Homo sapiens: one gene and its partners. The protein of the gene in region 6 interacts with the protein of the main gene of each other region in a pairwise test. Each region holds a gene or a part of one and is shown on either strand. Other genes may lie near its edges. The genes, in order: SORBS2, PUM1, PLEKHA7, CDK16, KIAA0930, YWHAE and RICTOR.

Region 1 (3,500 bases), on a different chromosome or scaffold from region 6:
GAAATATGTTCTAGAAAAAGTTGCAAGTTATCGAGAGGGCTTCCAGTCTGGCTCAGCATTTCCTGTTTAAAAGACACCTTTCTTTTTGAGGCATCCTTACCCCACCACCATCACTCACCTCACCAACACATCTTTCACAACAGCATTTTTTAACATTGGATTTGTCTTCATTTCCCATTGTGCAACACTGGCTTTGAAAGCCAGGAGAGGCAGGAGGATTTCCTGAAGGTGTGTTTACGTTTCCATAAAACTCCGTGGGTTTTCTTTTGTTTTGTTTTTGTTTCTGTGGTCTAATTAAACCAGAATGGTAAATAAATTTGGACAAACATGCTGGCTTTCATCAGACAAAAATGAAGCAGGAGTCTGTGCCAATTTTGTTGCGTTAGCTCTGAGACCTTGAGATTCTTTCCAGCAGCTGAGGTTTGCAGCCTTAGGTAACCGGTCTCCATGAGTGGGTGGAGATGAGCCTGGGCAGGGTTCAAGCCTGAGAAGCTCAATAAAAGAATCAGTTTTCCCAAAGTGAGAAATGCCGTGTGTATCCATCAAAACAGCAGCCCAGGAACCACCATCTCTCTCAAATGTGAAACTGGAAAAGGGACCGTGAACTTTCCCCACAGATACACAAAAGATACCACCCCTTCACCTGAGCAGCCTCCAAATCAAATTCTTTACACAAGCAACAAAATAAATGGACTACCCCTAGCAAAGCTGGCCACATGCAAACATCCAAATCAGGTGACGTTTCTGTATTCCACACCTGCCTGTCTTTTTGGCCACTACTCTGGGATGCTAGCTGCCTTTCTCTGCCCTTCCCCATAATCACAAACCCCTCTCTCAAGAAAAGGCCTCAGAAGCCCATGCTCAAAAGGATATAAGTGGCTGTAAGGTCTACTGGAAGGATGAAGTTTTAACAGGAGAAGAAGCCTCTAATGTTGAAATTTCAGGCTTTGGTGCCAGGCCAGGGAAAACAATATTTTCTAGGGGATGTTGTTAGGCATTCTCTGAAGCCAACTCTATCCAGCTCCCCCAGTCCAAATGCTGGATGAACGGGGGGAAGCCAGTAGGTCACTGTTGCTTATTAATGACATAAGATTTGAGTTTAAATGATAGAATAGTTTTGTTCTACCAAAATATTATTTTCTGACTCATAAAGTAATTAAAAATAAATCATTCTTGTTCCGGAGCGGTAGTCAAGATTATCAACTTTTTTAAGTTGGCATGAAAAAATCTAAAATACCCTAGAAAGTGGTAATTATTTTCTCACATTAGCAGAATGACATGACTGTTACAGAAAGCAGCAGAAACAAATTCCCAATTTTTAAAAACCCCCTCACAGTACTGGTAATATTTTAGTACTATTATGAAGAAGTTTTCATGTTAACTGCCTATCAAATTCTTCTTGACCTTCTCAGCTACAGTAATTTCGCCTTCATTTTCCAAAAACACCAGCCCATGTTACTATTTATTATAATGTATGGTGTTTTCTTACCACAAATTCAGTGTCTGAATTCATTATTGATCAATTTCCACCACAGTATATGCTGTCAAAGAATTCAGGCCGGGAAAGGAAAGTGATAGCATTCTATCAATAATTCTTTTTTATATAAAATTATTTCAAGAGAGAGTTTTAAAATCAAATACAATTTTTCTGGGACTCATTTTAAAAAGAGACTTATGTCCATAGTCTGCTTGAAATGGAATCAGTAATAACTGCACATAGAATACATCTACTCAACTTCATAGGCTAATTACATCAAATCTTCCAATTCTACATCCTCAGAAAACACTGATCCAAACCATAACATTAAACTGATCTAAAGAATTCCTCTTAGTAAAAAAAATAATTTTCCTTTGTATAGTAATTCACACAGAGTGATTAAAAAGACATGTCTGACACATTTTGTCTATCTCCATTTAGAACCTTTGAAAATTCAATTCTCAAGCCCCCATTATTTGCTTCTGATTATGGCTAGCTAAAATTGTGATTCCTTCTTGTTTTTAAACAGTTAAATAATACAAATATCACTTATTTTATATTTTGTACTATTATTTAATGTCTAAATGATAGACGTTAGATGGCTGGACAACTGAAATGCGGGTCTGACTTATACATGTTGACATATTTTAATCCAATTTATGAATGTTACAATTTTCATGGATATTCCTCGTGAGTTTCAAAATGTTGTTAGAGTGTTCTAATGCCTGTGAAGATCTACATATTGCTATGTACCTGCTTACCAGGCTTGTACCATCCAATAGAATGCTATTTACATGCTTACCAGGCTTGTACCACCCAACAGAATGTTGTTAAGAATAGGAATGTTAAAGGAAGAATGAATATTGTTCTATCTTCTATATTTCATGAAGGTGTCAAGATGTTTTTAAACACATTCCCTTGTCCTGTTTAAGGTTTCAGGCTCTGTATAACTATACTCCCAGGAATGAAGATGAGCTGGAGCTCAGAGAAAGTGATGTCATTGATGTCATGGAAAAGTGTGATGACGGCTGGTTTGTGGGTATGTGCGCTTCTTCCTCAGGCACCTTCGGCTATTTTGTAATTTGCTTGAGTTTGCTCACTCCCGTGGTTTGCTGTGATGGCCGAGCTTCCTTTGAATTCGTAATGCCTTTGATCTTTCAGACATTCATATGCACAATGTAATCCCAAGGCTATTGCATTTTTAATATAGTTTAGTATTCACTGCTTCAGCTATGTGTGATTTTCTGCGAGCTTTATTTCCAACTCAACTGAGAGAAGACAATTTCTTTAAATAGCAAAAACCAGGAAAGATTGAGATCTAAGAACAACAACAACAAATGGTCCCCAGAAGAGAAATATCAACGCTCTGTGCTGTGGAAAATGTTAGTTGTCCACAGTGAGAATCTAATTTCAGAGGGAGTGAGATTAAGTGAACAGCTCTCCCGTTTCCTAGGTCTGACGTAGATGCCCGAACATTCAGTGACTCACCTTAACTTTAGTTTGTGGTGGAAGCAGAGAGACGTTCCATTCTTCCCACTTAAAAGGCAACTTCATCTTTACCATCCTAAAAAAAAAGACGAGAGGTCTTCTGGGAAAACATTTGTAGACAAAAGTATTTTACACTGGGCCACAGAAAGAGGTGAAAAGGAAACACAGGCTGCAGGGCAGAGAATGGAAGAGAGGAAAGGTGAGAGGAGAGGAGGGCTCACTCTAGACATCCATCGGTGGCAAAATCATGAAAGAATTGAGGCCCTGGTGCGGCCACAAGCCTCTGATTTTATTTCCATTAAAAGAAGAAAAAAAGGCCGGGTGCGGTGGCTCATGCCTGTAATTCTAGCACTTTGGGAGGCCGAGGCGGGTGGATTACCTGAGGCCAGGAGTTCGAGGCCAGCCTGGTCAACATGGTGAAACCCCGTATCTACCAAAAGTACAATAATCAGCTGGGCTTGGTGGCAGGTGCCTGTAATCCCAGCCACTCAGGAGGCTAAGGCAGGAGAATTGCTTGAACCCAAGAGGCAGAGGT
Region 2 (3,500 bases), on a different chromosome or scaffold from region 6:
GGCATGGTGGCACGCTCCTGTTAACTCCAGCTACTCCGGAGGCTGAGGCAGGAGAATCGCTTGAACCCAGGCGGCAGAGGTTACAGTGAGCTGAGATAGCACCACTACACTCCAGCCTGCCCAATGGAGCAAGACTGTGTGTCAAAAAAAAGAATCCTACACTCTTACTGCCAAAGCACACATGGACACACTGTTTTGAAATAGTATTCTACATCATTAAGAGAATTGATTTTTTTTTCTCCTATTTACACAAGGTAACAGAGTTGGGAGGGGAAAAATCAGTAGAATCAAGAAGTGAGGCTACACAATGTTAAAATTCTACTTAGAATGATTTTCCATCCTTGGCTTATTATTTTCATTTCAATCACATAATCGTGAGATTGGAGGAGACTTTATGAATTCTCAGCCCATCCAACCTCCTCATTCTCCCAAGGGAAACTAAGATCCAGAGAAGTTCTCAAGCTTGGTCCAAATCATATGGCTATAATCCATTGTACATTTTGTCACCCCAAGGTGCATCAGCCTCCAGAACTAGAAAGCTCAGTATTTTTATATATGTGACAAAACGGCAGTGCAAAGTCATTCTAAAATCAAAAATACAAAAGTCATGTTTAGATTGGTTTCTTAGTCCAAAGCTGAAGAATTCAGGGTGAAAAAACATAAGTCTTCATGAAAAAACTTGGGAAGGTAAAACTTGAGTACGTCAGTTTTTCATCTTCATACAAATCAAACAGGATGAGATGTTAAGACATTTACAAATTTGTTTTGTGGTAGGTAATGTGCAGAATTCCAGCATTTTCCTCCCCATACCAGACTCCTCCTCATCTCGAAGTTTTGTGCCATTCTGCATCTACACCTTAGGGTTGCCAATACCAGATAATAAGGGCTACAATGGTAAGCAAAAAAGTCCCTGCCTCTCTGAAATTTTACCTCACTAGAGGGAAAAGACATCAACCTAACAATCTCATTCTTTCCAAAGACAATGATACAACAAGTGAACATTATTCAAATTAACAGAAGTAAAACAAGAAATCAAGGCCAAACGATCAGCCAAGAAGCAGCATTTAACAATTCTTGTGACCCTAGCTGATAATGAAACATACTGGAGTCGGTGTCCAAAGACAATTCTCTAAGAACCTTAGAAAAATTTGTTTTTGGCAATATTTTATTGTGATCCTGCTAAAACTACTTTACAAGGATTATTTCCTCCTTAAGTGACACGTTTTGTGAAACTATTATAACAATCTGAAATAATGTGCTGGGTCCTAAATGGGGACACCAGTTTTCGAAACACATTTCCAAAATAGATTGGCATTATCTGCTCGGATATTTAAACCATACAGAATAGATAGACTGCTGCTAATGAATTGGAAAAACACTAAAAACCTCTTCAAAAAGACCACACACCCTTCATTCTGAGGACTGGAATGGGACTGCTATGCTTAAAAAGGCTAATGAAAATCAAAATGCTCTGCAGATTCTCTTAAGTCAAAGGATAGAAAGAACAAAGGCTTACTTCAAAGAACTTCTGAATGACGTAATTACCAAACACATCCACCATGAGTTGGTAGGCAGCCTGGAGGATTTCATTGAAGACAAGCTGGCGCTCAGCTGGTGTGGCACGCTCCAGTTTCAGCTGAATGAATCTGAAGTACAAAGTAAAAAGGGCAATCACAGCACTGAAGGAAGACCTGGAGATACATCAGTGTACCTCGGTTTATAGACTGCATCCGTTCTGAAACATGTGAGTGAGCATGTGTGCACACACATGCACACAATAAACCAAACTTTATTTGAATGAATCACTTGAACTCCCTTGAAGAGTTTTTAAATAGAGGAAGAAGGTCCTAACTTAATTGAGCTTTGAAAATTACATATAAATGTTGGCACATTTCATTCCAGTAGGGCATGCATACTGAATCTTATTTATGTGCAAGGTGGGAGGGAAGATGAAAGCGGGGGGGGCGGGGGGGGGGCGGGAGGGGCAGGGGTGCAGGAAGAGAGGAGGGGTGGAGGGAGACATAACACAACATGTACCCTACTTGACTTTTTTCCTTTAGAAACCAGCCTCACATCAATGAACTCAAAGCTTACAGTCCTTACTATATTCTTTAACTTATTTTCATATAAAACAGTACTCATCAGCTACTCGGGAGGCTGAAGCAGGAGAATGGCGTGAACCCGGGAGGCAGAGCTTGCAATGAGCCAAGATTGCGCCACTGCACTCCAGCCTGGGCGACAGAGCAAGACTCTGTCTCAAAAAAACAAAACAAAACAAAACAAAACAAAAAAACAAAAACAAAACAGTATTCATTATCTTCTGAAGTAGTAACAGTCTGCCTTTTTTTAGTCCAAATGACCACTATCAGGAAAATCATGTTGCCTCTGAATCTAGCCTATAGAATTCAAATATGAGAAATTTTGGCCCAGTAGCAAGCTGGCAGAACTTAAGGAGGAGGTAGCTTCTGTAGAAACTGTTTCACTGGACACAGTATCAGAGAAAGAAACAGAAACAGAAATGGGAAAGAAGGATGGGTGTTGTCACCATAATTATGCTCTATCCCCAGGACCAGATTCGCTTTCTGTGAAGCCCACTGCAGCAGCCCAACAGGAAGGGGTAAACCAAACCAAATTCTGTCTTCTATAATAGTTTCTTCTCTCGTCTCTACATAGACTGTCACTTCTACAGAGTGGAACAACAAAGAAAGGTGGTAGAGCTGTCTTACTCCTCAGCACCCTAGATCAAACTTGTATTTGAATAGCAACTCTTTGAGAGCAAAAGATTCTTCATAATGCTTAAAGCAGCCGAAGTGTATGTATGTCTTTGTGTTCATGTTTGTTTCTTAAATCCCTATGAAATAATGTGATGCAAACTAAGAGGCACGCTTTTAAAAAATTACTATATGGCAATTTATTTAAGTAGATACCCATCTGAGCCAAGACAGTTAAGGCATTACAATTTCGGGTACCTTAAAGTGCCAAAGCCAAGTACTCACCTGGACCCATGCTGGTCTTGGGAAAATTCCATTATATGTCCAGCAATCTCCCGCAGTTGTAAATTGGGGTACCGGTTGTTTCGAAAATCTTCCAAAAGCCTGCTCCTGCCAGAAGGCATGACATCAGACATTCCATATCGCAAACGAGAGGAAGAGAAAAGAGTGCTGCTCGGGCTGAAGAGGCTGGAGGCGCTGCTTGCACTGCGGTACTTGGCTTCAGCGCCTGGAGCAGCAGAGATGTATCTTCCACTGCCATTCGTGAGTCCTCCTGTTGGTTACAGAACAGGATAACTTAAGACCACTCTTCAGCAACTTCATTCAAGAGAGAAAAAAGCATTCCCACACCCGAAAGCCTGCACCATTTCTGATTTCTTCAATGCTGTTGTTTTTGTGTCAAGACAATTCTATTAGCGTCATGACTTTCGTGGGTCAACTCAACAACCTGGAAGGAAACTTTTGCACAAAGATTGAGAAGGGAATGCTTTTACCGTTGATGGTAGACTG
Region 3 (3,500 bases), on a different chromosome or scaffold from region 6:
CCATTAAAAGTAATAGCACTAACCGCAATTACATTTGCACCAAGCTAATACTTTTTCCTTCTTTTTCAATAAGGAGCCTTGCATTTTCATTTTACACTGAGGCTCTGCAAATTATGTAGCCAGTCCTGCCCCTAGGACCTGCTTCAGGTCCTAGGGGAGGGGAAAGTTAGCCTTACTCCAAGCCTCAGAAATGTCTTTCCCAGAGTCTAGCTGTCCTCACTTGGGGACAGGCACCCACAAGAAGAAAGTACCTACACAGGGTGGCTCCACACAACCCCAAAGCTAAAACTGAGAAACCTGAAGCTAGAAAGGGTCTTGTGCAATCAGCTGGTTCCTGCCAGCACCCTTGTGCCAAGTCACAGATGATGCCAAGGGCCCAGCAGCCAGGGAAGGAAGACAGCCTAGTCCAGTAGCCAACAGGTATCCCAGTCCCAGATGCAGAGCAATAAGGATATGAAATGAAGACGCAGAGGAGGCCGTTTGAGCCTCCACCAGCCAGCTTCCTGCTTTGAGCATTGTTCTCAACAGCAAGCGACTGTATCCAAGAAGCCTGGGTCTAGGCACCAGCCTTGACAGGCCTGTTCCTGGCTGTTGAGCTTCTCTCACCTTGCTTATTCTCCTCCACCCCAATCTCCTTCCCAGTAAGGAGTTTTCCAAGACCTGGAATACCTAGAAAACTCATTGGGTCTCTTTAAAACACTGATTCCTCAAGAGATGCCAAGTGCCTACTCAGCTCCCAGCCCTGGGCTGGGTGCCTAAGTCACAGAAGTGGGGAATAAGATGCCTGCCTTCAAGGAACAGCCTTGGCACAGGCAAGGTGGCTGAGCCCCTCTTCTCTGCCATCTCCTCATTGCCTCATGACCTATTTAATGCCTGCTGTAGGGGGAACGGAATTCACAAGGTTCCATGAAACCCCTGAAGAGCAGCCCAGTGTAATACTCTAACTCCCATGGCCTCTTCTAGAAACTTCTCCCTCATAGGTCCCATGTTTGAAAAAGCTGTGTCTGCCAAATTGTATTTACTAATAATCAATGTCTTCAATTTCTTACTAATCAGAGACATGTACCACCCCTAATCAACATAGGAGACCAGGGGGTACTGCCCTTCCAAAGTACCTCAATCCCCAGAAAAAGCAAAGATGGAGTCTGGCCCCATAAGCCTTGGGGAAGCCTAACTCAGAGCAATGGCATATGGGCATTCATCTCCTTCAAGATGCATGGCCTGGGGTAGGAGCTACCACTACTACTGTGGCTATCACATGAGGGACCAAAGACCTATGTTCCAGTCCCAGCTCTAACACTTCAGCAAAATCATTGAACCTTCATGGACCTGAGTTTCATCATCTGAAGAATGGGGATGATTCTTCCCCTCCTGCCTCCAGGGGCTGCTATAAGGATCAAATAAGAAAAGACACAAGAAAAAAAACCATCTGCTATAGGAATGTCCAGGATTACGGCAAGATTCTATGTCTGTAAAACGAAACTAGTAGTAGTTCCTACCTCATCAAACTATTGTGAGAATTAAATCAATGACAGTTACAGAACAGTTCCTAGCATTTTTCAAAGACCCAAAAAGATTAGGCTGTTATATAATTATTACTACTATTATTGCTACTTCTGTTAATGACACTATTATCACAATTACTATTATACCTTGCTACCCAGCTAAGGGATTCATAGTAGAGAAGTGCTAGAGTACAAAAAGTCTTCGTTTTATTTATTTATTTATTTATTTATTTACAGACAGGGTCTCACTCTGTCATCCAGGCTGGAGTACAGTATCACAATCATAGCTCATGGTAAACTCAGACTCCTGGGCTCAAGCAATCCTCACACTTAAGCCTCTCAAGTTGCTAGGATTACAGGAGCATACCACCATTAATTTTTTCATTTTTTGTACAGATGAGGCCTCTCCGTGTTGCCCAGGCTGATCTTGAACTCCTGGCCTCAAGTGATCCCCTCGCCTCCGCCTCCCAAAGTGTGGAATTGCAGGCATGAGCCACTATACCCAGCCAAAAAATCTTTTTAAAGGGGTTATCAACATCACTTAGTCTAGAACTGGGAGAACCAACAGTAGATTTCTTATACATTTTGTCCCTCATTAATGCAAAATTGAACAAAAAGTGCAGAAATCAAAACAAAAATTCACCTGCCTAACCTCAAGCTTTTCTGCTTCAAGAAATGGACTCCGAGGCCAGGCACAGTGGCTCATGCCTGTAATCCGAGCACTTTGGGAGGCTGAGGCAGGCGGATCACTTCAGGTCAGGAGTTTGAGACCAGCCTGGCCAACATGGTGAAACCCTGTCTCTACTAAAAATGCAAAAATTAGCCAGTCATGGTTGTGCACACCTGTAGTCCCAGCTACTTAGGGGGTGGCCGAGGCATGAGAATCACTTGAACCCAAGAGGCAGAGGTTGCAGTGAGCTGAGATCGTGCCACTGCACTCCAGCCTGGGCGACAGAGCAAAGCTGTCTTTAAAAAAAAAAAGAAAGAAAAAGAAAAGAAAGAAAAGAAATGGACTCTGGAGAGTATTAAAACATTTGCTGGCCAGGCATGGTGGCCTGCATTTGTAGTTCCAGCTACTTGGGAGGCTGAAGTGAGAGGATCACTTGGCCCCAGGAGTTCAAGGCTGCAGTGAGCTATGATTGCACCACTGCACTCCAGACTAGGAGACAGAGGAAGATTCTGTTTCTTAAAATTTTTTCAAAAATTAAAATGTTTTAATCTGCTAAATATGAGGAGCAACTGAATACATCCTGTAAAACCTCACACAACTTTCCTGTGCAAGGAGCCATTAGGAAAAATAAAATCAGCCATGTCAATGCTTTGTCGCTCTCACTTTATGAGCCAGATTAGAGGAGGCTCCTGCCCTCAACACAAAAATCAAACATTCAGAAATGCTCACGGCAAAGCTAAGAAATCAGACAACAGTAAAACATTTTTCATGTGGGGGGCGGGGGATGAGGGAGAGAACAATTACTCCCAAAACCCTTAAGTCTCTCAAAAAATTGTCACAGAAGGACGTCAGAAGTACAATCACCTGCCACAGGGCCCTGCCTTTGAGGGTAGGGAACACTGTCACACATTGCTTTTTCTAGGCCTGGGAGGAGTCAGCCAAGGCCCTGGGGGCACAGGAGCTCACTGTAGGAAAATCATTAGGGACCTCACAGACAAGTTACCATGGAAGAGTCAGCAAAGGTGTGGAAGGCTGTGCTCCAGCCTCCAGAGTCCCACACGCGGCCTCACACACCCAGCCCAAGGCTGCACCTGGTACTTTGGGACACTTGCAGCCCTTCCTCCCGCCAAATGAATGATGGGCCCTGCCCCTGGGTGACGCTAGTGAGATGCAGGCCATGGATCCCATCCCTCTCACCTTCTTAGAAACACTGCTCCAGCAACTGCCCCGTCTCTTTACTGCAGCATCGACTTCTTCCTCTCAGTGGGATCATTCCCATCAAAACAAACATGCTGTACAATCTCCCACCAAAAAAAAGAACCCTC
Region 4 (3,500 bases), on a different chromosome or scaffold from region 6:
GGTGGGGCAGGGAGGAAGACAAGGGGCTATACCTACCTGAGTCAGGCATCGACGAAGACCGAAGGCTGGCCTCCTTTTGTAGCTGAATCTCCTTTAGTGCAAATATGGAAGTAGCTACAGATGGGGGAGACATAGAAGTGGGGGATGACCCATGAGGTCATCTAGGACCAGCCCCATATGACCCCATGGGAAGAATTAGAAAAAGCTGCCCCTTCTCTGAGAGGCTTGACCTTTATCTGTCAAACAATTCCATACACAAACCAGCTACAACCAGGGAAGATGAAATATAGACTATTACATGACACAAAGAAATCATTATTAACTTTGTCAAGTGAATTATGGTATTGCAATTACCACCTGTTAAGTCTAGGTGATGGGTGGTGTTTGGGGTTTGCTTTATATATTAATCCAGTGGGAAGATAGGGAAAGTGAGCAAATGTTTTTTGTAGGTTTGATAATAATATTGTTGTTTTAAAAAAATCTTTTATAGGTATATGCTGAAATTATTTAAGGATAAATGCTATGATGTCTGGGATTGGATGTGATTCAAAATAATCAGAGAGAATATAGATAAAACCAGATTGACCATGAATTGATGACTCACTGGAGTACTTAGGGACTCATCATATTACTTTGACTAATATATAAATACATATATTTGAAAATATCCATATTAAAAAGTTTTTAAAAGCCAGATATAAAAAGAACATCACATGTGATTCTATTTCTATAAAGTACAAGGACAGAAAAAACTTATCCTTGCTGTTAGAGGTCAAAACAGTGGCCACCCTTTGGGAAGGGGCTGGGAATAACTGAAGGAGATGCAAGGGAGCTGGGGGTGGGGAGCTTTTAACATTCTGTTTCTTGACTTTTGTGCTAGTTACAAGGATGTGTTTCATTTATGAAAATTCATTGTATAGTATACTTATGATTTGTGCATTTTTTAGCACATGTAAGGAAATGTCTACTTTAAAAAAAGTAAAGTGCTATTGCATATATTTTTATGTATGTTTTAAATTTTTCATGAAAGGTAAAAGGAACTGAAAACTAAAAAATGTTTTCATAACAAATACAACCCATCACACACGTGAACAAGATGTCCCCCCACGTAGAGGTGGCACAGCCAGAATCCTACACAACCCGCCAGCTGGCCCCAGCAGTCCTGTTTCCCAGTCCCCACGCTGGCCGGTCCATTCCCCAGCTCCACTCACTGTCAGGAAGTTTGTGGATCCGCTCCCCCAGACTGAGGAAGAATGGATGTTTCATGGCATCCTCTGCGGAGATCCGATTTCGACCCTCAAACTGAGTGGGGGTGCGGGGAGGGGGATAGTATTGATATCTTCAACAAGTAGGTCTCTCTGCCCACCTCAGACCCTGCCCCTGGTTTGAGGGGGGGGGTCCCTGTTTCCCCACACTTGGAATCCCATACCCCCAAGGCTGACCCAAGGTGGTCTCACCTGCAACAGCTTGGTGAGGAGGTCGGCCCCGTCGCTATCAAGTCTGCCACAAGGACAAAGAGACCTGATTTAAAATGAGTTTGGACACTCTGGCCCCTAACGCCCACCCACCCACCAGCCTCACCGGGGTGCGTGGCTCAAAAGGGCCTCGGCTCGGTACTTGGGGTAGTTGTATGTCTTGAACTCCTCGTTGGACAGGATGCCTGGCCACGTCTCCTCAGTTGGGGTTCCTAGTAGGGAAGAGGAGTTATCCCAAACATTTCACAGGTCCTCCCCGTGTGTCTCCACAGCGCCTAGGGCCCATGCCTCCTCACCTAAGATACGGAAGATGAAGTGTAGCTGTTCCTCCACCGTGGAGCCCGGAAAGAGGGGACGGCCTGTGGCCATCTCATAGAAGATGCAGCCCACACCCCTGGGCAGGGAGGGCACAGTGAATAGAAAGGCAGCTGGCTGGGTGGCTGTTGTGACCAAGCCACCCCCTTTACCACATGGCCCCTGCCACACTTCCACCTGTCCTTACCACATGTCAATCTGAGTGGAGTAGTCCGTGGACCCAAGCAGGATGTCAGGGGGCCGGTACCACAGTGTCACCACCTCATTGGAGTATGTCTTTGTTGGGATTGACTTGGCTCGGGCCAGGCCTGGAAATCAGAGAAAGGACAGCTAGAATGAGGGAGTCATGGGCAAAGTCTCGGGGAGAGTGCAGTTGAGACTGAGGGTGTCCTAGGCAAAATCTGGCAAGGCTGAAGGGAAGTGAGACTAAGTGGTCATGGGAAAGTAGGAGGCTGGGGAGCCAATAAGAAAGGGGAGGCCAGTGGTACCAAAGTCAGCCAGCTTGAGCTCTCCCCTCTCGTTGATGAGCAGGTTCTGGGGCTTGAGGTCTCGGTGTAGCACCTTCTGCCGGTGGCAGTAGGCCAGGCCACGGAGCAGCTGGAACAGGAACAGCTGGGGACCCAGGAATGGCAGGCAGAGGTCAAAGACTATCCACTAGCCCGACCCCCAGCAGGCACTGCTCCCCTCCCAAACACAGACACTAGGCCCAGAGCCTTGTCACACAAAAGAGGACAGGGTCCCAGTGCCCTCCAAGGGCTCCTAGCAAAAAAAGCCAAAGGGAAAAGTCCGTTTCTGGGAGATTTGTGGGTTGGAGTGGGTGAGTGGGGGCCCCCTTGTGCCCCTGCTTCCTGCCCCACACCCACTTTCACGTTGTGCATGTTGATGATGTTCCCACAGTCATCCAGGTACTGCTTCAGGTCCTTGTCCTGAGGAAAGAAGAGGTGGTACAGGAATGAGGGTTACTTCCTATGGCTCCTGGCCTTCTCCTCACCTCCCCCTGGGACCTACTGCCACTCAACCTTACCAGGTACTCAAAGACAAGGGTGAGGGACTTCTCCGTGTGGATAATGTCATGTAGCGTAACGATGTTGGCGTGTTTGAGGTCCTTGAGCAGGGACACTGCAGGAAGCATGGGAGTGGGACAGGGGAAGAGTCAGGGTCCTACCCTCAGGACAGAGGTGAGGACAAGGACTAGAAAGGGACAAGCCCAGGTTTTCTTTCTTTCTCTAGACAGTTCAGGGTAATGCCTCGGAGCCACCAGCTCTAACCCGCCTCATGCCAGAAGAAAGTTGTGTCTCCATGTTGCAGATGTGGAAAATAAGACTCAGAGGAGAGTATGGAGCAAGAACCTGGGATTGCAGCCCCAGGCTCATGTGACACTAGATTTTCACAACCTGTTTTTGGTTTCTGGGAAGGGGCCTGGCTCCAACCCTCAGTACATAGGCCTGCAGCATCGCGTGAAATCGAATTTGCACACTAAATTTCAGTGCAATTCAAATTCATTCCATGTGATATTCTGACTAGAAATTGTTACAGTAAATAAACTGGTGAGCACTTTCAGGGGTGTTCTCAGAACCAAACCCTGGTTTGCAATTCATCTACCTTTTATCCAAATGGGAACAGATTCCTGGTTACCCTGATTATTACCTGGATATGTGGGTGACAGGCATTCCCATGAAAGCCAGAGTGTTTTGGGGGGTCTTAGAACCA
Region 5 (3,500 bases), on a different chromosome or scaffold from region 6:
TATCCAGTCAGACTCCTCCACAATGACCCACTTCTTTATCAAACCTAGCATAGAAAATAAACAGGTTGAGGCTGGGCACGGTGCCTCAACATACCTGTAATCCCAGCACTTTGGGAGACTGAGGCAGATGGATCACCTGAGGCCAGGAGTTCAAGACCAGCCTGACCAACATGGTGAAACCCCATCTCTCTACTAAAAATACATAAAAATCAGCCAGGCATGGTGGTGGCCGCCTATAATCCCAGCTACTCAGGAAGCCGAGGCAGGAGAATCGCTTGAACCCAGGAGGCAGAGGTTGCAGTGAGCCAAGATCTGAGACTCCGTCTCAGAAAAAAAAAAAAAAAAAGAAAGAAAATACACAGGTTGAGCCCATTTCTTTGGATTTTCACTTCCTTATGAAGGCTCCTGTATCATGTAAAACTTACACTAAATTATACTTTTCTCTCTTCTGCCTTTTGTTATAGGAACCTCAGCCATGAACCTAAGATGGGAAGAAAGATAGTTTTCACCTCCTACATTGGCAGTGGGGCCTGAAGATCCGAGGGATGTCTGGGCTTGTCCCAGCGATGTGTGTGAACAGGATACAGAGGCAGGGGTGGGAAGCCAGAGGCATGAACAATCAGCCTGTACCTGCCTGCCACCACCCCCTCCCCAGGGAGGGCCAAGCTCCCAAGAGTCAGATCAACCCTAATTCAGCACTGCATTTCCAGGGTTCAATATATATGACCTCCACAAATGACACAATGGTGACTACAAATACATAAAAATGTACACTCAGACAGGGGTAAAAACTGCAGAGAAGGTAAGAAATTAACAGGCACACCAGGCGCAGTGGCTTATGCCTGTAATCCCAGCACTTTGGGAGGCCGAGGCAGGTGGATCACAAGGTCAGGAGATCAAGACCATCCTAACATGGTGAAACCCCGTCTCTACTAAAAATACGAAAAATTAGCTGGTGTGGTGGCGGGTGCCTGTAGTCCCAGCTACTCGGGAGGCTGAGGCAGGAGAATGGCGTGAACCTGGGAGGCGGAGCTTGCAGTGAGCCGAGATCGCGCCACTGCACTACAGCCTGGGTGACAGAGCGAGACTCCCTCTCAAAACAAACAAACAAAATTAACAGGCACAAGGGTCTTGAATGGCTGTTGTTGCTGGAAAGGTGCCTATGAAGCAAGGTTTCAGAAAGAACCAGAAGGGAGAAGCCTAGTCCAAGGCCACCTCACCCCAGGTCCACCTATCACTCTGAGGCCTGGTCCCCCTCTGTAAATGGGACAACACCCCTCCTGCCTTCTGCTCAGCACTGCTGTGAGGACACACGAGGGTGTGCAGGGCAGCACTTCTCTATTATAATTACATGGATAATCCACACGCTTCATAACATGTGGATTTGTATTCTGCTTTTCTCCCTTTCTCTGCCATAAGTGTTGCTCCAAGTGTGAAAAGCATTTTTCAAGATTCAAAGCACATCCCAATACAAAGCCCTTTTACATTAAAGATAATGGACACGTGGAGTAAGGGAACTCTGCCTGTTGTTCACCTGCCTCGGTCTCCTCACTTGCACCACGGGGCAAGAGGCAGCACTGGTGAGATCAGGCAGCCAGCCCTCCTGATTCTTCACCCTGTTTGAGACAGTCGGGGTCCACTCTGAGTCTCCCCTGTCTGTGTCAGTGATAGGGCTAGGCTGGTTGAATTCTGGGACTCTCTCCATCCCAGCTCCCCCAGGACGGGCTGTGACCCAGAGGGCATTCTGCTGCCTCAGCCGAAACTGGGACACTGGGAGCAAACTGCCCCCCTACCTTGGGAGGGTAGAGCTCATCAGGCACAGGAAGCCTGGAGTCACATCTTCTCCCAGGAGAATGCCCATCCTGCAGAGTGGGCTGGGTGGGGACCGGCTCCAGGGGAGGCTGGCCCACCGCCTCTCCATGTGGTGGGGCTGAGCCAGGGCTCTGTATGTGACCTCAGCCTCCGTTTCCCTGATGTGCAGAGTTCGGCTTTGACTCAGGGGCACAGGTATCTCTGGGGGTGAGGAAGGGACCCCGTGGAGTGTTAATTTTCCCACCCACCCCCGCCAGGTGTCAATGTCGATGACATTAAGGTTCATGCTGTTGGGGCTCAGGTGGATCCAAGGACAGGTGGCTGGGAGCAGGCCAGATCAGGAAGGTGGAGGAAGGCATCACAGCCAGTCCCTCCTGCTTCTGAGCCTCAGTGGCCCCATCTATCACATGGGGGCAGGGGTGGTAAACAGACAGCCCAGTGGCCACCAACTCAGGCTGACACACCCAGACAGAGGGAACGAATGAATTACACCACAGACTCCAGGGCCCCCCAGGAGGACTTTCACTCAGATGCCCAGGTCGGGGGAAGGAATGGGCATTTTGTTTTAAAGTTCCCCAGGGTTCTGTGCTCTGGACACGGTGTGGTACAGGGTGGGCAGACTGAGGCAGGCGAGGTGTTCTAAGGAGTGGAGGCTGAGGTTCAAGTGGAACGGGTAAGCACAGGTGCTAGGCCGAGTTCCCCAGCACAGGCCACGCAGGGCATGCAGCCCCACTTCCAAGGAGTCGGTAGGCCTGGGTGGGAAAGCTCCCCTCAGCACAGCAGCCACAGCCATAAAGGCCCAGAGGCGGGCATCACCTGGAAAGTGGGAAATCACATCCAGTCAAAACACGCTTCTACTTCAGCTGCAGAACAGCCCGGGTGCCCACCCGGGTGGCAGGACCTTCACTAGGCTGACTCACCAGGGGACCTGGTGGCTGCTCTCAGGACGCTGGGAGGGTGGGCAGGACAGCCGGGTTTGGGTGATAGGCAGTGAGCTCTGCCCTCTTAGGAAGCTGAGTGCACCAGACCCAAGCTGCTGGAAATGACCGAGGGAAGGTCTACTCAACCCTCTGAGCCTCTGCTTCATCCCTGTAAGACACGGGCTAACTCCTACCTGACAGGGGTTATGATATTAGATGACGTATTGTTTACAAGTCCCGCTTGGCCCTGCCTAGCCCAGCACCGCATGCAGGAGGGATCAGAGGTCCAGAGGGACAAGGGCCTCCAGAAGACAGAAGAGCGGGGCTGGGGCTGCACAGGAGCTGCAGCTATGCACCAGGGCTTCCCCAATCCCACAGAACCCTTAGCGGGAGAGCCTGGACTGGGGCTTGCAGAGCTCCTGTCTACAGCAGTGACAGGGAGAGGCTGGTTGAATTCTGAGACCCGGGGGCCTTGGCAGAGGCCGGGCACATGTACTGACCCTGAGGGGCAAACGTCTCTGTTGTCTCTGAGGCCCGGCAAGCTGGGGTGGCCTGCAGTGAGGGGTGACCAGGAGTGGAAGGTCAGTGTGCGTGTGGGTGCCGTTGGGGAGCTGGCCTGGCCTGTGCTCAGGGCTCAGCTCCCAGGCCTCATGGTCCTCCGATGGGGAAGAGGGGGCCTCTGCTTCCTGCTCGGGGAAGACAAGCCTGAAACGCCAGGGGGAGAGCTCTCAGGTAAGAAGACAAGGTTGGAGGATCACAGACTGGCAA
Region 6 (3,500 bases):
GAACCCGGCTGGGGCTTTTCTTTTTTTGGTTGTTTTTTTCTTTTGCTTAAAGAGGTGACATCTGCCTACAATAAATCATGTTTTTTAAGAATCTGTATGCGAATAAACATTCTGAGAGTACCTAAACTTCACCTCATTTTAATTTCGCTGTGCCTTGAGATGGGATTTTATCTCTGAAAAAAACCATCAGGTTTCTTTAGGAAAGTGAAAAGATTTTGTCTACAATTCACCATGGATATCAGTCATCACAAACATCAAGATGTGAAGTAGATGCTATTAGAATTGTTAAAGAACAAGCATCAAGCATACGCTACTCACCCCCTACTCCCCTGAAAGGCACCACCTTACTTCACAGAGGTCTTTTGAGTGGCTGAGAGTAAGTGTACCGATCTAAAGGTCAGCAGACACTAAGTTCTGGCTTTACCATTTAATAACTGATTAGCCACATGATCATAAAAAAATCTCTCTCTCAAACTCACTTTCTTGAACCAGAAAATGGGAGTAACGCTCTACCTGCTTCAATCTTGTTACATAAATTAAAAACTTTTGTCAACGTGGGCTGTGAACTGAGGTACTGCATAATGTCATATACACATATGTAAAGTTTAGGCCAGAAGCAGTGACTCACACCTGTAATCCCAGCACTTTGGGAGGCCAAGGTGGGAGTCCAGGAATTCAAGACCAGCCTGGGCAACATAGAGACCTCAAATCCACAAAAAAAAAAAAAAAAAAAAAAAAACACAAAAATTAGGCCGGTGCAACAGTCCCAGCTACTAGGGAAGCTGAGGCAGGAGGGTCACTGGAACTCAGGAGGTCGAGCCTGCAGTAAGCTATAATGGCGACACTGCACTTCAGCCTGGGTCACAAAGCAAGACCCTGTTTCAAAAAAAAATTTTTTTTTAATTTAGCCTTCCCATAAATACATACACCTAATATGTGCCCATTAAAAAATTAAAAATTTAGGCCAGGTACAGTGGCTCATACCTGTAATGCTAGCCCTTTGGGAGGCTGAGGCGGGAGGATCACCTGAGGTCAGGAGTCAGAGATCAGCCTGGCAAACATGGTGAAACCCCATCTCTACTAAAAATACAAAAATTAGCCAGGTGCGATGGCGGGCGCCTGTAGTCCCAGCTACTCGGGAAGCAGAGGCAGGAGAATCGCTTGAACCCAGGGGGCAGAGGCTGCAGTGAGCCGAGATCCTACCACTACACTCCACCCTAGGTGACAGAGCAAGACTGTCTCAAAAAAATAAATAAAAATAAAACTGCAGCCTTTACTCCATGCTTGTCATTACTGTTTGTGTACACAGTGTTCTTGAAATATAAAGAAAAAATATGCCTGCAGTATCAGTCACCCTTACAGTCATCCATGAAAAAAAAAAACAATCAGGCCGGGTGTGGTGGCTCACGCCTGTAATTCCAACACTTTGGGAGGCCGAGGCAGGCAGATCACCTGAGGTCAGGAGTTCAAGACCAGCCTGGCAAACATGGTAAAACCCTGTCTCTACCAAAAACACAAAAATTGGCTGGGTGCGGTGGCTCACACCTGTAATCCCAGCAGTTTGGGAGGCTGAGGTGGGCAGATCACCTGAGATCAGGAGATAAAGACCATCCTGGCCAACATGGTGAAACCTCGTCTCTACTAAAAATACAAAAAATTAGCCGAGTGTGGTGGCACGCGCCTGTAGTCCCAGCTACTTGGGAGGCTGAGCCAGGAGAACCGCTTGAACCTGGGAGGCGGAGGTTGCAGTGAGCCAAGACCACGCCATTGCACTCCAGCCTGGGGGACAGAGCCCAGTCGTAGAAGGGATTTTTAACACTACGTTACTCAGTTCTGTCTATGCATTTAAGAAGGAGAAAAATAAACTTTACTCCAGAAAGTTAGTCCATTAACTGAAACGGCAATGGAAAATTACTGGCCTACAGTCAAAGAACTGGTAGTTAATCTAAATACTTCTAAACTTATTAACAACGTTAATTTACTACTACCTATTTTTTTCCTAACAAGACCGTAGTAAAAAGTTCATTCCACACATGCTCCCTTCCCTGTTCTTCACTAACTAGCAGAATAAGCTAGCTAGAGATGAGGATCTGGTGTTTTAAAAGGACAGCTCTCAGCGGGCTCAGTGGCTCACGCCTGTAACCCCAGCACTCTGGGAGGCCGAGGCGGGCGGATCACCTGAGGTCAGGAGTTCGAGATCAGCCTGGCCAACATGGCGAAACCCCATCTCTACTAAAAATACAAAATTAGCCTGGCATAGTGGCGGATGCCTGTAATCCCAGCTACTCTTGGAGGCTGAGGCAGGAGAATCGCTTGAACCCAGGGGATGGAGGTTGCAGTGAGCCGAGATCGCGCTATTGCACTACAGCCTGGGCGACAAGAGCAAGACTCCGTCTCAAAAAAAAGACAGCTCTTGACCAGGCGCGGTGGCTCAGGTCCTTAATGTCAGCACTTTGGGAGACTGAGGTGGGCGGATCACCTGAGGTCGGGAGTTCGAGACCAGCCTGACCAACATGGAGAAACCGTGTCTCTACTAAAAAAGAAATACAAAATTAGCATGGCATGGTGGCACATGCCTGTAGTCCCAGCTACTCGGGAGGGTGAGGCAGGAGAATCGCTTGAACCCTGGAGGCGGAGGTTGCAGTGGGCCGAGATTGTGCCACTTCAATAAAGCCTGGGAGACAGAGCGAGACTCCGTCTCAAAAGAAAAAAAAGACAGCTCTCAAGTAAATGACTCAACAGATGCATTCCTAGGGAATCCAACATGACCATCAAAACTTCATCCTACCTTCCATGAAGCCAATCTTGATAGGGAAGAGACTAGGAAAGGACAAAACCAACAACAGCCCCACAAGCCCAAATGTAGTTTATGTTACCCCTCTGCTCCCCAAAAACGGGTAAACTTTTCCCCTCTATATTCCCCGTTTTTTATTGTTGCTGTTGCCCAGGATGGAGTGCAATGGCGCAATCTCGGCTCACCGCAACCTCGGCCTCCCGGGTTCAAGTGATTCTCCTGCCTCCGCCTCCCAAGTAGCTGGGATTACAGGCACCCACCACCCCCGGCTAATTTTGTATTTTTACTACAGACGGGGTTTCTCCATGTTGGTCAGGCTGGTCTCGAACTTCTGACTTCAGGTGATCCACCCGCCTTGGCCTCCCAAAGTACTGGGATTACAGGCATGAGCCACCGCACCTGGCCTCTTTTTTTTTTTTTTGGAGACAAGAGTCTCGCTCTGTTGCCCAGGCTGTAGTGTAATGCCATAATCCTGGTTCACTACAACCTTCACCTCCCGGGTTCAAGTGATTCTTCCACCTCAACCTCCTCAGTAGCTATGCCCGGATAATTTTTTTATTTTTGTAGAGACAGGGTTTCACCATGTTGGCCAGGCTGGTCTTGAACTCCCGACCTCAGGTGATCCACCCGCCTCGACCTCCCAAGGTGCTGGGATTACAGGCGTGAGCCACCCCGCCCGGCCTTTCTTCCCCACTTTCTTGTACTA
Region 7 (3,500 bases), on a different chromosome or scaffold from region 6:
TGAGCCCAAGTACATATACACAGGTCCTGTATATAAAAGATGCAGTAAAAACAGTTATAATTCCAAGCTGAGATTTCTTAAAGCCACCACAGATTAATTTGCTATACATACTTTGAACTTTCTCTAAAACCCACCAAAATGGTTGCGTTTGTGGAAAAAAAAAAACTTATTAAGACTAGTCAGGAATAAATTAGCAGCAATAAAAAACAAGCAAACCTTCCCAATAAAAATAGTAATTACAACAAAATAAAAAGAACACAATGCAACATGAGCAAAAAAGGTATATTAGCTTTTCTAGTATAAATCTGGAACAGCTGGGTTACAGGAATACTGGAGTATCTGTACAACACTATGCCTTACCTGTTACCTACAAGGTAAACTTCAATATAATAAAAATCAAATTATAGTAGTAAACAAGGAGTTCGTTTAGATGTTTAACTTAATACAGTTAATAATCTTGTATCATTAGAACTTTCAGTGGATTAACAGTTATGCATTGCACTTAATCATAAAATACTTTCCCCTAACATCCATTTGTGAATAACAACGTCTACATTAGAAAGATTTCTGAGTTAAATGACCTACCCTCTGATGGAAAGAACTTCACACTGTTTTGCAAGTTTTAGTATATCTGGAATCACGTTTTCTTCCTGTAGCAAATTGAGACCCCAATTTGATGAGCCGATATTTCCCTGAAAGAAAAGAAATCACTTACATCAAATATAAGAGTCACTCTTTCAAAAGATTTGGAAAGCTACCAAGAAACAAATTTAACCTCATCTCTGAGAGAGAAAAAATGTAAAAGCCTCCTCAAGTACAAAACATTAGGCATGAATTAATTCTAGTTGTCTTAGCAACAAAACAAAAGTCATGAAACCAATAGTTCAACCATCTATTCTTCAACATAGAGATAATACACTTATATTGGCAGGAACAATCCAGTCTTAAATATTAATCTAATAAGTAGTTCCAAAGAAAATATTTATCTATTTAGTATAAATGAAAAAAAAACTTAAAAATCTAAAAATTGCGAAGATCTTACAGAAGTGTTTATTACAAACCAAGGCCCAAAGAGATGCTTTCAGTTTTTTAATTTCTTCCCACTTATCCAAATCTGGTGTACGAACATTACGACAGAGTTCTGTAATAATATTCTGGAGAAAGAAAAAAAAATACCATGAGTAATAATATATTTATGTATTTAATATATTATTATTGCATCATAAAACCAGTATAACGTTTGTTTTTTGTCATTTTTGCATATTTAAATTCTAAATAATTTTATGTAAAATTTCTTGAGAAGCAGCATAGGGCAGGGGTTCTGAATTCACATTCTAGAATTATCACTTATTAACTGCATGGCCTTGGGCAAGTTACTTCATCTCCTCATCCTTTGATTTCCTAATATCTAGAAGAGTGATAATAACATTTGCATCATAAGGTTTCAAGATTTAATAAATTATTGCACATACAGTGCTTACCAAAGTACTTGGCACTTAGTATTACTAAATAATCATACTTATTCTTTAAAACAGAAAGTAAATTAGTGCTTAGGTTTTATCATACTATGTAAGTAGTAACACTGAGAAAATCATTTAAATTTTTAGTGAAATTTTCAAATGTTAATATGAAAATACTTGTCCCAACAGTTTTCACAGACGTAATATAAAAACACATGAAACTATAGAGTACATTTATGCAAAACTTTGTGCTCTTGAGATGAATACTGATACAATCGGGAACTAAATTGTTAAATAACTATTGTTCTGTCACAAAAACAAATATTCCTATAACTTTATTTCTAAAATAAGAGAAACGTTACATTTATTGGAAACAGTTGCATGACATATTCACAACCATAAATGCGGTGTACATATTATAACTCAAAGAACAACTGCTTGCCTATGCTTGTTAACATTCCATGAAGTACGCGAGAATAAAATGTGCTCACAACCAGCAACTTTCAATTTATTGCTCAACAAGGATAACTTAATCTGTATTAGGTTCAGTTTAATTTCCCAATGAGTGGAAGAAAAACTCGGTTTTTCAGTACGTTTTTGGAGATCTGAATTTCTCCACTAAACTCTAAAAAAAGAACTCAGATCTTCATTGGATTGCTTACTCTACATAACAAGTTAGTTATTCAAAAAGTCATACACAAGTCAGTTAATGCATTGCAAGGCCATTAATATTTCTCAGGTTAATAAATATAGAATGCCTAAGTCAATTACAAAATAGATGAATTTAAAAGCAATTACACCACTGATATTAAAGCTTTTGAGAAGTTTTTGCAAAGGTAATATTTTAGCAATGTTAAGATTTTGTTTTTTTTTTACTATTGTAGCTACTTAAAATAAGTGAATTATGTTTTTACCTGTACTTCCAACAAATGGCAGCCTGTTTTATGGTGTACTAGTTGTCCATAAAGGTGTATAGGCAGGTAGACGTGAGGACGCTGTAATCTAGTATAATAAAGATGATTACTATATCTCTTGGCTAATTTAAATATGCTAATTAGAACAAAAGAATTTTAATAAATGTTTGATAAATAAAATTAGATACAACTCTCCAGCATAAATAAAAATATGAAAGTAACAAGGAATGAGGATTTCTCAGGTAAAATATAGGCTGGGCTTCCCTAATCCAAAATGATCCAAAATCCAAAACTTTTTGAGCACTGACATGACACTGTAAGTGGAAAATTCCACACATTAGTATTTAATGCAAACTATTTCATACAGAAAATTACTTATAACACTGCATAAAATTATGTTTAGGCTACGTGTATAAGGCGTATATGAAACAGATTAATTTCATGTTTAGACTTGGGTACCATTCCCAAGGTATCTCGTTATATATATGCAAATATTCCAAATCTGAAAAAATCTGAAATGCGAAACATTTCATCATTTTGGATAAGTGATGTTCAACCTGTAACAGTTTATCAGAGCTCAAAGTACTGGTAAGAGAATCTAGGCCTAGAAATACAGACTGGGGTGCCAGCATGGAGTATATGTGAATGCGTTATCAGTAAGGATATTCAACATGCCATGAATGCCACTGAATTTTTGAGCAATTAATGCTGCGCATTAAGATTCTTCCTATATCATGTTAGAAGCAGAATATACAAAAACTCAGAAATGTTAAAAATAATTTATGATGAACTAGTTTTAAATCTGATAACTGGGTACGCACCTTTGGTTACTCCGACGAACATAGTTATCACCATCAACAGGCTTCCGGTAAGTAGTAAGTGCTTCATTGAGTTGTTCCTCAATCAAGTCAACATATTTGGAGTTGTATTCCTAGAGGATAATATTGTTTTAATTGCACATAGTATCACAATGAGTCACTAAATTTAAAATATGTCAGATACTTAGCAAAGGGTAGACAGATCAAGGTATTATGAATGCAAATGTTCTATCATATCCATAAGCTTTTGGCTCAGGTTTCAACTAGTACTATATACTAATGACCCCCATATCTGCCATTTTCCTCAC

Evidence for each region.
Region 1: the proteins of YWHAE (region 6) and SORBS2 interact in binary tests that used the Homo sapiens proteins (3 or more experiments, as listed by UniProt).
Region 2: the proteins of YWHAE (region 6) and PUM1 interact in binary tests that used the Homo sapiens proteins (3 or more experiments, as listed by UniProt).
Region 3: the proteins of YWHAE (region 6) and PLEKHA7 interact in binary tests that used the Homo sapiens proteins (3 or more experiments, as listed by UniProt).
Region 4: the proteins of YWHAE (region 6) and CDK16 interact in binary tests that used the Homo sapiens proteins (3 or more experiments, as listed by UniProt).
Region 5: the proteins of YWHAE (region 6) and KIAA0930 interact in binary tests that used the Homo sapiens proteins (3 or more experiments, as listed by UniProt).
Region 7: the proteins of YWHAE (region 6) and RICTOR interact in binary tests that used the Homo sapiens proteins (3 or more experiments, as listed by UniProt).

The regions. Positions count from the first base shown.
Region 1 is NC_000004.12:185,588,695-185,592,194, reverse strand, and holds part of SORBS2 (sorbin and SH3 domain-containing protein 2), read left to right. Parts: intron 1-118; exon of another isoform or gene 119-290; intron 291-2,409; coding exon 2,410-2,516; intron 2,517-2,965; exon of another isoform or gene 2,966-3,041; intron 3,042-3,500. UniProt on the Homo sapiens protein: Adapter protein that plays a role in the assembling of signaling complexes, being a link between ABL kinases and actin cytoskeleton. Can form complex with ABL1 and CBL, thus promoting ubiquitination and degradation of ABL1.
Region 2 is NC_000001.11:30,950,718-30,954,217, forward strand, and holds part of PUM1 (pumilio homolog 1), read right to left. Parts: intron 3,265-3,500; coding exon 2,997-3,264; intron 1,647-2,996; coding exon 1,517-1,646; intron 1-1,516. UniProt on the Homo sapiens protein: Sequence-specific RNA-binding protein that acts as a post-transcriptional repressor by binding the 3'-UTR of mRNA targets.
Region 3 is NC_000011.10:17,007,915-17,011,414, forward strand, and holds part of PLEKHA7 (pleckstrin homology domain-containing family A member 7), read right to left. Parts: intron 1-3,500. UniProt on the Homo sapiens protein: Required for zonula adherens biogenesis and maintenance. Acts via its interaction with CAMSAP3, which anchors microtubules at their minus-ends to zonula adherens, leading to the recruitment of KIFC3 kinesin to the junctional site.
Region 4 is NC_000023.11:47,225,181-47,228,680, reverse strand, and holds part of CDK16 (cyclin-dependent kinase 16), read right to left. Parts: intron 2,910-3,500; coding exon 2,815-2,909; intron 2,717-2,814; coding exon 2,654-2,716; intron 2,403-2,653; coding exon 2,279-2,402; intron 2,099-2,278; coding exon 1,978-2,098; intron 1,870-1,977; coding exon 1,772-1,869; intron 1,688-1,771; coding exon 1,582-1,687; intron 1,501-1,581; coding exon 1,458-1,500; intron 1,303-1,457; coding exon 1,212-1,302; intron 115-1,211; coding exon 37-114; intron 1-36. UniProt on the Homo sapiens protein: Protein kinase that plays a role in vesicle-mediated transport processes and exocytosis. Regulates GH1 release by brain neurons. Phosphorylates NSF, and thereby regulates NSF oligomerization. Required for normal spermatogenesis.
Region 5 is NC_000022.11:45,230,895-45,234,394, forward strand, and holds part of KIAA0930 (uncharacterized protein KIAA0930), read right to left. Parts: intron 1-3,500.
Region 6 is NC_000017.11:1,393,723-1,397,222, forward strand, and holds part of YWHAE (14-3-3 protein epsilon), read right to left. Parts: intron 1-3,500. UniProt on the Homo sapiens protein: Adapter protein implicated in the regulation of a large spectrum of both general and specialized signaling pathways. Binds to a large number of partners, usually by recognition of a phosphoserine or phosphothreonine motif.
Region 7 is NC_000005.10:38,952,400-38,955,899, forward strand, and holds part of RICTOR (rapamycin-insensitive companion of mTOR), read right to left. Parts: intron 3,306-3,500; coding exon 3,196-3,305; intron 2,463-3,195; coding exon 2,375-2,462; intron 1,155-2,374; coding exon 1,062-1,154; intron 693-1,061; coding exon 586-692; intron 27-585; coding exon 1-26. UniProt on the Homo sapiens protein: Component of the mechanistic target of rapamycin complex 2 (mTORC2), which transduces signals from growth factors to pathways involved in proliferation, cytoskeletal organization, lipogenesis and anabolic output.